Linked DNA regions of Homo sapiens: region 2 is linked to region 1. Evidence: fine-mapped expression QTL. A gene starts in region 1. The other region holds a variant in brackets. All regions are shown on one strand. Distances are between the middles of the regions.

Region 1 (4,395 bases):
TAGGCAACATGGAAAAACCCTGTCTCTACAACAAAATACAAAAACTAGCCTGTGTGGTGGCATGCACCTGTAGTCCCAGCTACTTAGGAGGCTGAGATGGAAGGATCACTTGGACCTGGGAGGTAGAGGTTGCAGTGAGCTGTGATCATGGCACTGCACTCCAGCCTGGGTGACAGAGCAAAACTTTGTCACAAAAATAAAGAAAGAAAGAAAAGAAAAGAAAAAGACAAGTCAAGAAAAAGCTCTTAACCTAAGACTATTTACAATTTAATTGAAGAGATGGTAAGTAAATAAAATGATGTGAACAAGATGGTAGTATGTAGGCAATTGGGAGGAGAGTGAGATCATTTTGTCCAGGGTGATGAGATTTTTGGAGAATTGGGTTTTGGTCATGTCATTTAGAAACAAGAGTAAAAGCATGAGCAGACAGAATGAATGACAGAGAACATTACAAGGATAAGAAATGTAAGAAATAAATGCCTAGAATAGTAGTAGAAATGAGTAGACTTCTGAAGTTAAGGCAGGTTAAGGCTACTAGTGAGAAGTGTTGGGGTGAAAGTATGGTTCAGTAACATGTTAACCAAGTTTATCTTTCATGTATATTTCTTTACTTGGCCCCAAATCCTAGGCCATTGAGAATTTGTAACTAAAATGTTCTAGATGTTTCCAAAAGAGACAGAATATATCAGGGATAGTTTTCATTACATGCCTTCTTTAGTTTCCTGGTGTAGTTTTTTGAATATACTTATCTCCCTTTCCCCCATCCCCATTGCTAGATCTTTTAATCCAGGGGTCCCCAATCCCCAGGCCAGAGACTGCTACCGGGATCTGTGGCCTGCGAGGAACCAAGCAGCACAGCAGGAGGTGAGCGGAGGGCAAGTGAGTGCAGCTTTATCTGTATTTACAGGGGCCCCCCATGGCTGGCATTAGGGCCTGAACTCCGTTTCCTGTCAGATCAGCAGTGGCATTAGATTGTGATAGGAGCGAGAACCCTATTGTGAACTGCGCATGTGAGGGATTTAGGTTGCGTGCTCCTTATGAGAATCTAATGCCTGATGATCTGTCACTGTCTCCCATCACCCCCAGATGAGACTGTCTAGTTGCAAGAAAACAAGCTCATGGCTCCCACTGATTCTACATTATGGTGAGTTGTATAATTATTTCATTACATATTACAGTGTAGTAACAGTAGAAATAAAGTGCACAGTAAATATAATGTGCTTGAATCATCCCCAAACCATCCTCCCTCCCCCAGAAAAAACTGTCTTCCATGAAACTGGTCCCTGGTGCCCAAAAGGTTGGGGACCGCTGTTTTAATCATCAAGGATTCTGACGAACCTCTTTGAATTTTCTATTTAATTCATATTCCATAAGTAAAACTTGATTCCTTGTTTGTTTGTTTTTCCCCTAAGAATTTAGAAAGCAGAGTGCATGTTGGGGAGACCTGGTTTAAATTCGAGAAGCAGATAACACAAAGACAAGTAAAAAAAAAAAACATGATGTACACAGGATTGACAGAATAAAAAAAAAGTCTTTGTGCAAGGGAATGTGACTATACAGAAATGTGGAGAGGAAAATACGTAATGTTAGTGTTAATAACTTTTGACCCCATTTAGGTCACTTTGAGTAATGAAGCTCAAAACACTAGATTATATTTTTAGCAAAGTAAGTGCAGTATCCAGTCTCTCACAGATGTCATGTGTCTCAGGCCGTTTGGAAAATTCAGCATCTGCCGCATTCCCAGTCTTTGATGAGGACACTCCGCGAACTACAAGCACCCTCAGTGGGAGGACCTCCCAGGTCGGGGTGTGAGGGCCAATGAGGAGGCTGGGGAGGGGAGGCAAGAGTTACGGAAACGGGGCCACAGCACTCCAGATGCCGCGGCGGGAGGAAGCGGGGCTGCAGAGGACTCAAAACGCGTTCAGAGAGGCCCATCCAAATGCCAGGAGACAGACGGCAAGGATGCTTAAGAGGAGACGTGACTGGGCGAGGCAGATGAGGAGAGGGCCGTGGGCCAAGGTCACCCGCTAAGAGGCGGCAGGTTTACCACTGAGACACGAGGCCGTGGTTTTTGCCCGTGCCTCCAGAAAGAGCGTGGCGAGATCCCCGCAGAACCCAGGCGTGGGAGGCCCTGGGGAAGAGCCACGAGGCCCGACTCTAGTGGCTCAGGGGCCCTGGGCAGCGGCGCGCCACCGCTCGCCCCACCCTCAGCCGCTCTCCTCTTCCGGGCGCGCTGCTTGCCTGCGTGCGCCGGGACGCGCGGGGCCGAGCGTCTGAAGCGCGCCCGTACGCGGAGCGGCGCTTTCTAGGAGCCCCGCCCTCAGGTGCGCTCTGCAGGAGGCGGGGCGCGACTTCGGCGCCGCCAGCTCTGCCTGCGCCAGGAGCGCGCGGGTGCGCGCGGCCGCGCCCTCGCACAGATCCCAGCTGGGTCACCCGCACTGAGTCAACAGACTGAGCGCGTCCAGGCCTGACAGCTCTGCGGCTCGGGCCCTGAGGTGAGGCGGGCGTCGCGGGCGGCGGCGGCGCTTGAGGCTAGCCTGGGACAGCCGTCCCTGGGGGAGTTGAGGGGACGAGGAGGGGCTGGCCAGCGAGGGACGGCGGGGAGAGAAGGGGAGTTCGGCGTCTGAGGTGTGGGGTGAAGCGGGCTCGGAAGCGGGCAGAGGCGGCGAGCTGAGGGAAACAGACCTCCCTCAGCTCCCGGGAAGCGCGGGTTGCCAGCCTCGGGGATGCGGTGGGAGCGCCCAGGATGCGGACGTGAGGGGGTCGGGGCCCTGCGGCGGGGGCTCCGCGAGGCTCCCCTGGGACCGGGTCCGGCCGTGGGACTTCGGGACACTGCCTTTGCCTGGACGCTGTCGTTCCACCCTCAGCAACCTCAGGGAAAGAAGGAAAACAAATATTGATGTAAATTTCCGTCTGAACAGCTGGGTAATGAGCGCTTGCTCTTCCCTGCGAGGTTACGCGCGGATCATTACCTTGCGTGTTAAAAGGAGTTTCAGTGAGAAGAAAATGCGCAGATCTCATGACACAGTTTGGGAGGGAAATTCCCTGATCCTAAAACACGAATAGGAGCTCCAGGCATGGAAATACTTAATTGGATCGGAAAGCTGGGCAGGCTGGAGCTATTAAGCTGAAGGAGGTTTTCCCCTGGGCTCCTCAGGCTTCGATTTACGTTTTAAATAAATAAGTCCGAAAATAATGAAGATAATAACCACGTTTACTTTCTACAAGGGCGTTCTGAAGGAATCTAAGGGAAGAGGAGTATTTGCTGGACTACAGCTTTAAGCCAGGCTCGGTATTAGCTCTTTTCATTCTGACAGCAACCCTGTAGGATTGGAGGGGGTTATTCCAGTTGGGCAGGTGTGGAGAATGGGCCTCAAAGAGGTTAAGTAACTTATTAAGGTCTCAGCTAGTAAAAGGATGGAGTTGAGATTCCAACCCGGGCTGCCAGACCCTAATTCTGGTGCTTTATTTAGTATATTTTGTGTTTGCCGGGAGAGCAATATTGTATGTGTTTTAGGGAAGACTCCATAGTAGGGAACATTATTAGGGCAGTTAGGGCTTTGTGGGTATTTGTGTTAAAATCAAACTAAAGAGGCGTTAATCTTTGCATATGTGCTGTTTGAGTATATTTCCTTTCAAACAGATTTAGTGTAGGGAAATCTTACATTCACTATAAGAGCAAATTTATTAGTACATTCCATGTGTATTGCATGTCTTTTATTTTTAAAGAGACAGCGTCTCGGGCTAGAGTGCAGTGGTGCGATCAAAGTTCACTGCAGCCTTGAACGTCTGGACTCTAGGGACCCTGCTGAATAGCTGGGGCTACAGGCGTGTGTCACTGCGCCCAGGTAATTTTTTATTTGTTTTTCAGAGACGAAGTCTTGCTATATTGCCCAGGCTGGTTTGTTGCATGTCTTTTACATTCCAGATACCATACTATGTGCCAAGAGTACCGATATGAATACAATTTATAATCTCTGTCCTTGAGTTTAGTTGAGAGGGTGATTGCATAAAAGAATTTTATGATATTGTACTAAGTCATAACTTTTCTAGTATGTAAATTAGTTGGATTAAAAATAGTTTTAAGGGCAAGCTTTTAAGGACCTATTATGCATAAGAAAATTTATTGGATGACTTGTCCTCTGTGTACCATTGCATTGTTATTTTCTCCCTCAGCAAGAAACACTGTGATAAAATTTAGGTTAAATTATATTGACAACTAGCATTTTTTTTTTTTTGAGACAGGGTCTCATTCTGTCACCCAGGATGAAGTGCAGTGGCAGGATCTTGGCTCACTGCAGCCTTGACTTCGCAGGCTCAAGTGATCCTCCCACCTCAGCCTCCCAAGTAGCTGGGACCACAGTTGTGTGCCCCTACGCCTGGCTATTTTTTTTT
Region 2 (4,395 bases), 70 kb after region 1:
TTAGTATATTTACAGAACTGTGTAACCATTACCATAACATAATTTTGGAACATTTCCAGCACTCCAAAAAGAAACTTTGTACCCATTAACAGCCACTTTCTTATCCCTATTCCCATAGCTCCCAGTCTTAGGTAACCACTAATCTACTTTCTGTTTCTGTCAGATTTGCCTGTTCTGAACACTTTATATAACTGGACAATGGAAATATGCTTTGGAAAACTTGAGTCAAAAGACCAACAATTCTCTTAAATACCTTGTATTTAACTTTTATATCTGTTTGCTTTTTACCATAGTTGGTTGGCATGTTATTTTAATGTTGGAAAATCATCAGATTTGCCAGATAACATCTTTGAAAAATTGCTAGGATTTGGGCACTATAATTAGTATCTAGCATATGGTTTTACACTTAGTATAATGTTTGGAGGGCTTATCATGTAGTCGTGTGTAGCACTTTTTATATATCTTAATGAGTTGCTTTTACTTTTCAACTATTATGAACAATGCTGCTATGAATTCAGCTATTATGAACAATGTTGCTAGTTTGTATACAACTGTTTGTATGGACATATATTTTCATTTCTCTTGGGTGGATACCTAGAAATGGGATTGCTGGGTCATTTGAGGAATTGCCAGACTGTTTCTAAAGTGGTAATACCATTTTACACTCCCGCTAGGAATGTTTTAGGGTTCTATTTTCTCCACATCCTTGCCAATGCTTGTTATTGTTTGTCTTTTTTACATATTCTTCCAAATATATTAGCTAATTTGTTTTTACTTTTTCTTCTATCCAGCCTTGCTTACATGATTCATCACTTTATTATCATTTCAGCATCCTCAACTTTTGTCTTTTCGAACTGTCCACTAAAAATTATAATTATTGGTGAATCGAATTATATGCTGGAAAAAATAACATAAAAGTTCCATTTGATAATACTACATATTTATTCCATATAAATTCAGCTGGTTTTTTAAAAAAAATATTTTAGATTTGGGGGTAAATGTGCATGTTTGTTAGCTGGGTATATTGCATACTGGTGGGGATTGGGCTTCTATTGTAACATTACCCAAATGGTGAACGTTGTACCTAATAGGTAGTTTTTCAACCCTTATCCCCACCCCCTTTTGGAGTCCACAGTCCTAGTGTTTCCATGTTTATGTTCATGTGTATCCACTGATAAGTGAGAACATGTTGTATTTGATTGTCTGTTTATAAGTGAGAACTTATAAGTGAGAACATGTGGTATTTGATTGTCTGTTCCAAATTAGTTCACTTAGGATAATGGTCTCCAGTTCCATCCATGTTGCTGTAAAGAACATAATTTCATTCTATTTATGGCTGTGGAGTATTCCATGGTGTATATGTACCATATTTTCTTCACCCAGTCAACTGTTGATGGACTCTTAGGTTGGTTCTATGACTTTGCTATTGTGAATAGTACCATGATGAACATATGAGTTCAGGTGTCTTTTTTATGTAATGATTTTTTTTTTCCTTTGGATATATATCCAGTAGTAGGATTGCTGGGTTGAATGGTAGTTATATTTTAATACTGTTTGGTAACGAATAACATTTTCCTAGTTAGCACCTTCTTATCTCTTTCTTTTCAATAGTTATTCAAAGCTTTCTCTTTATTCCTTGTATTCCTCAAATCACCTTATCTTACTTCCTACTTCTCAGTAAATAATCTTGTCATTTATCTCAGAAAATAGAAGCACTTAATTATAAGTTATAAATTTCTACAAACTTACTCACATCTTCCATCATTTTTGCCTTTTCCCAGTCCTAGAGGAAGCAGCAGTCCATCCTATTACCCAAATCTTCATTTATTCTATATACTTGGAATATTGCTCAATTTTCTTTTTCTCTTTTTCTCTTTCCTTTCTGGATCTCAAAAGTGTATTTTTTCTCTTTTTCTCTTTCCTTTCTAGATCTCAATAGTGTATTTTTTTCTCTTTTTCTCTTTCCTTTCTGGATCTCAGTGGTATATTTTTGGGGTTGGGGAGGGTCACCTTTCTTTCATATATGAAAGAACCCATGGATCTCATTTGAACATGAATCCATCCCTAATTCCTATTCTATATCTCTCTTTCCTTTCATAGCCAAAATTCTTCTATCTCCAGTTACTCACCTTCCATCCACTCCTATAACTCCCTGCAATCTGGGTTTTCCCTTACCTTTCCATTGATACTATTTTCAATAAGATAACTAATGATTTTGTCTTTTCATTGTCTAATAGGCTCAACTTATTTAACTAATCTGCAGGCTTTAATATGATTGACATTGTTCTCCTTACACATTTTTCTTTTTTTTTTTTTTTTTGAGATGGAATCTCACTCTGTCACCCAGGCTGGAGTGCAGTGGCATGATCTCAGCTCACTGGTTGAAACGATTCTTCTGCCTCAGCCTCCCAAGTAGCTGGGATTACAGGCATGTGCCACCACACCTGGTTAATTTTTGTATTTTATTTTTTAGTAGAGACAGGGTTTCTCCATGGTGGCTAGGCTGGTGTTGAACTGCTGACCTCAAGTGATCTGCATGCCTCGGCTT[C/G]TTAAAGTGCTAAGATTACAGGCAGGAGCCACTGCGCCTGGCCACATTTTTCTTGTTCCTTTGTTTTCCATTATGTCTTCTGTTTGCCTCTGTACTTCAAAATTGCCTTTGCAAGCACTTCATCCTCTGTCTATCCCTAAAAATGGTGTTACTGTGGGTTCTGATGTCAACCCTCTACATCTACTCTTTCTGGGCAATTTCATTTATACTCAGGTTGTAAATTTTTTGAGGGCAAGGTTCATGTTTTTTCATCTTTCTTTCTGTGTAATAATACCTGACACCTACTAGTCATAAATAATATTGTTGAATAAATGAATGAATTTAGATAATATCGTCCAAATGTTATCAGTCATTGAAAAATAATGCTTGTGGCTGGGCATGGTGGCTTGAACCTGTAATCCCAGTACTTTGGGAGGCTGAGGCAGGTGGATCTTTTGAGGCCAGGAGTTTGAGACCAGCCTGGGCAACATGGTGAAACCCTGTCTCTACTAAAAATACAAAAATGAGCCGGGCATGGTGGCGCGTGCCTGTAATCCCAGCTACTCAGGAGGCTGAGGCAGGAGAATCGCTTGAACCCAGGAGGCAGAGGTTATAGTGACCTGAGATCGTACCACTGCACTCCAGCCTGGGCAACAGAGTGTGAGACCCTGTCTTAAAAAAAAAAAAAAAGAAAGAAAGAAAGAAAAAAAAAGAAATATCGCTTATAATTCCACCTTTCAGAGATAATCCTAGATCTTATGTTAGTGTATTTTTTCAGTCTTTTCTCTACCTAGTATCTGAATTTCTTACTATTTTAATTATTTGAAAACCTACTGTCTTTTATATTTATTATATATATGTAGAAACCTTTCAACGAAGTCTAAAAATAGGAAGCTTCCAGAACCACCAGACAATGAGGATGAAGATGAAGATGTCAAAGCTGAAAGACTAAAGGTCAAAGAGCTGATGGGTTGCCAGTGTTGTGAGGAGGTAATTTATTCTTTATGGCTAAGTCATAGTAAATATGAAATGATCAATTCCCGGTATATAGAAATTAATCTGAAAAATATTTTTCTTTGCATATGAAGCAATCTGAAAAAAATCTTTCTTGGAAAAAAATACTTCGTTTACTTACTTTTGAATAAGCCAGAATTTCAGTCATAAATGGATATTTATTTGTACAGTATCCCCTTATTAGCCAATATAATTTTTGTAATATGGATATGAGGTATGTGCAGCCTGTCATTTCATGATAAGTTTTATAACTTTCTTTTTAAATACAATTTTTCTTATTAGAAACCATCCATTATGGTCAGCAATTTGCATAAAGAATATGATGACAAGAAAGATTTTCTTCTTTCAAGAAAAGTAAAGAAAGTGGCAACTAAATACATCTCTTTCTGTGTGAAAAAAGGCTGGTATTTAATTTTTCCTTACATAACTTTTCTAGAAGAGTAATTTCTACTTTTAGTATGATTTGATTATGATTTTTTTTTCTTTCAATTCCTTTAGGAGAGATCTTAGGACTATTGGGTCCAAATGGTGCTGGCAAAAGCACAATTATTAATATTCTGGTTGGTGATATTGAACCAACTTCAGGCCAGGTATGATATATAAGAGTATAGGATATGTTGAATGTGATTTATATTGTTAATTAACATAAACTTTTAGTGACAAATTCGGATTTTATATTCAATTTTTATGTATATTTTTAGAATTTTTTGTACAGCCTGATCAAATTATGATCTTTTGGGTTATCTGTAAAAATAATGTGCATGGTGAAATTTTCATAGACACATGTAGACACACGCATATACAGTATTTCTGCTTTTGTAATGCTTACATGCGTGAGTTATTTGTCTACCAAC

What was found. PIP is the estimated chance that this variant, and not a neighbour inherited with it, causes the effect.
Region 2: its variant is the best candidate, but not a certain one, in a credible set for the expression of ABCA5 in whole blood (TOPMed, PIP 0.54).

Annotation. Positions count from the first base shown.
Region 1 is chr17:69,325,152-69,329,546 of GRCh38, reverse strand. ABCA5 (ATP binding cassette subfamily A member 5) reads left to right here and starts at 2,414. Exons shown (of 39, transcript NM_172232.4): 1 at 2,414-2,495. RefSeq lists an enhancer at 1,908-2,047 and silencers at 2,128-2,507, 2,638-2,727.
Region 2 is chr17:69,255,279-69,259,673 of GRCh38, reverse strand. It overlaps ABCA5 (ATP binding cassette subfamily A member 5), which reads left to right. Exons shown (of 39, transcript NM_172232.4): 29 at 3,391-3,517; 30 at 3,824-3,941; 31 at 4,040-4,131. Among named protein-coding and RNA genes, the nearest start is that of PRO1804, 22 kb to the right of the region's middle. The variant C/G (reference allele first, on the strand shown) is at 2,549.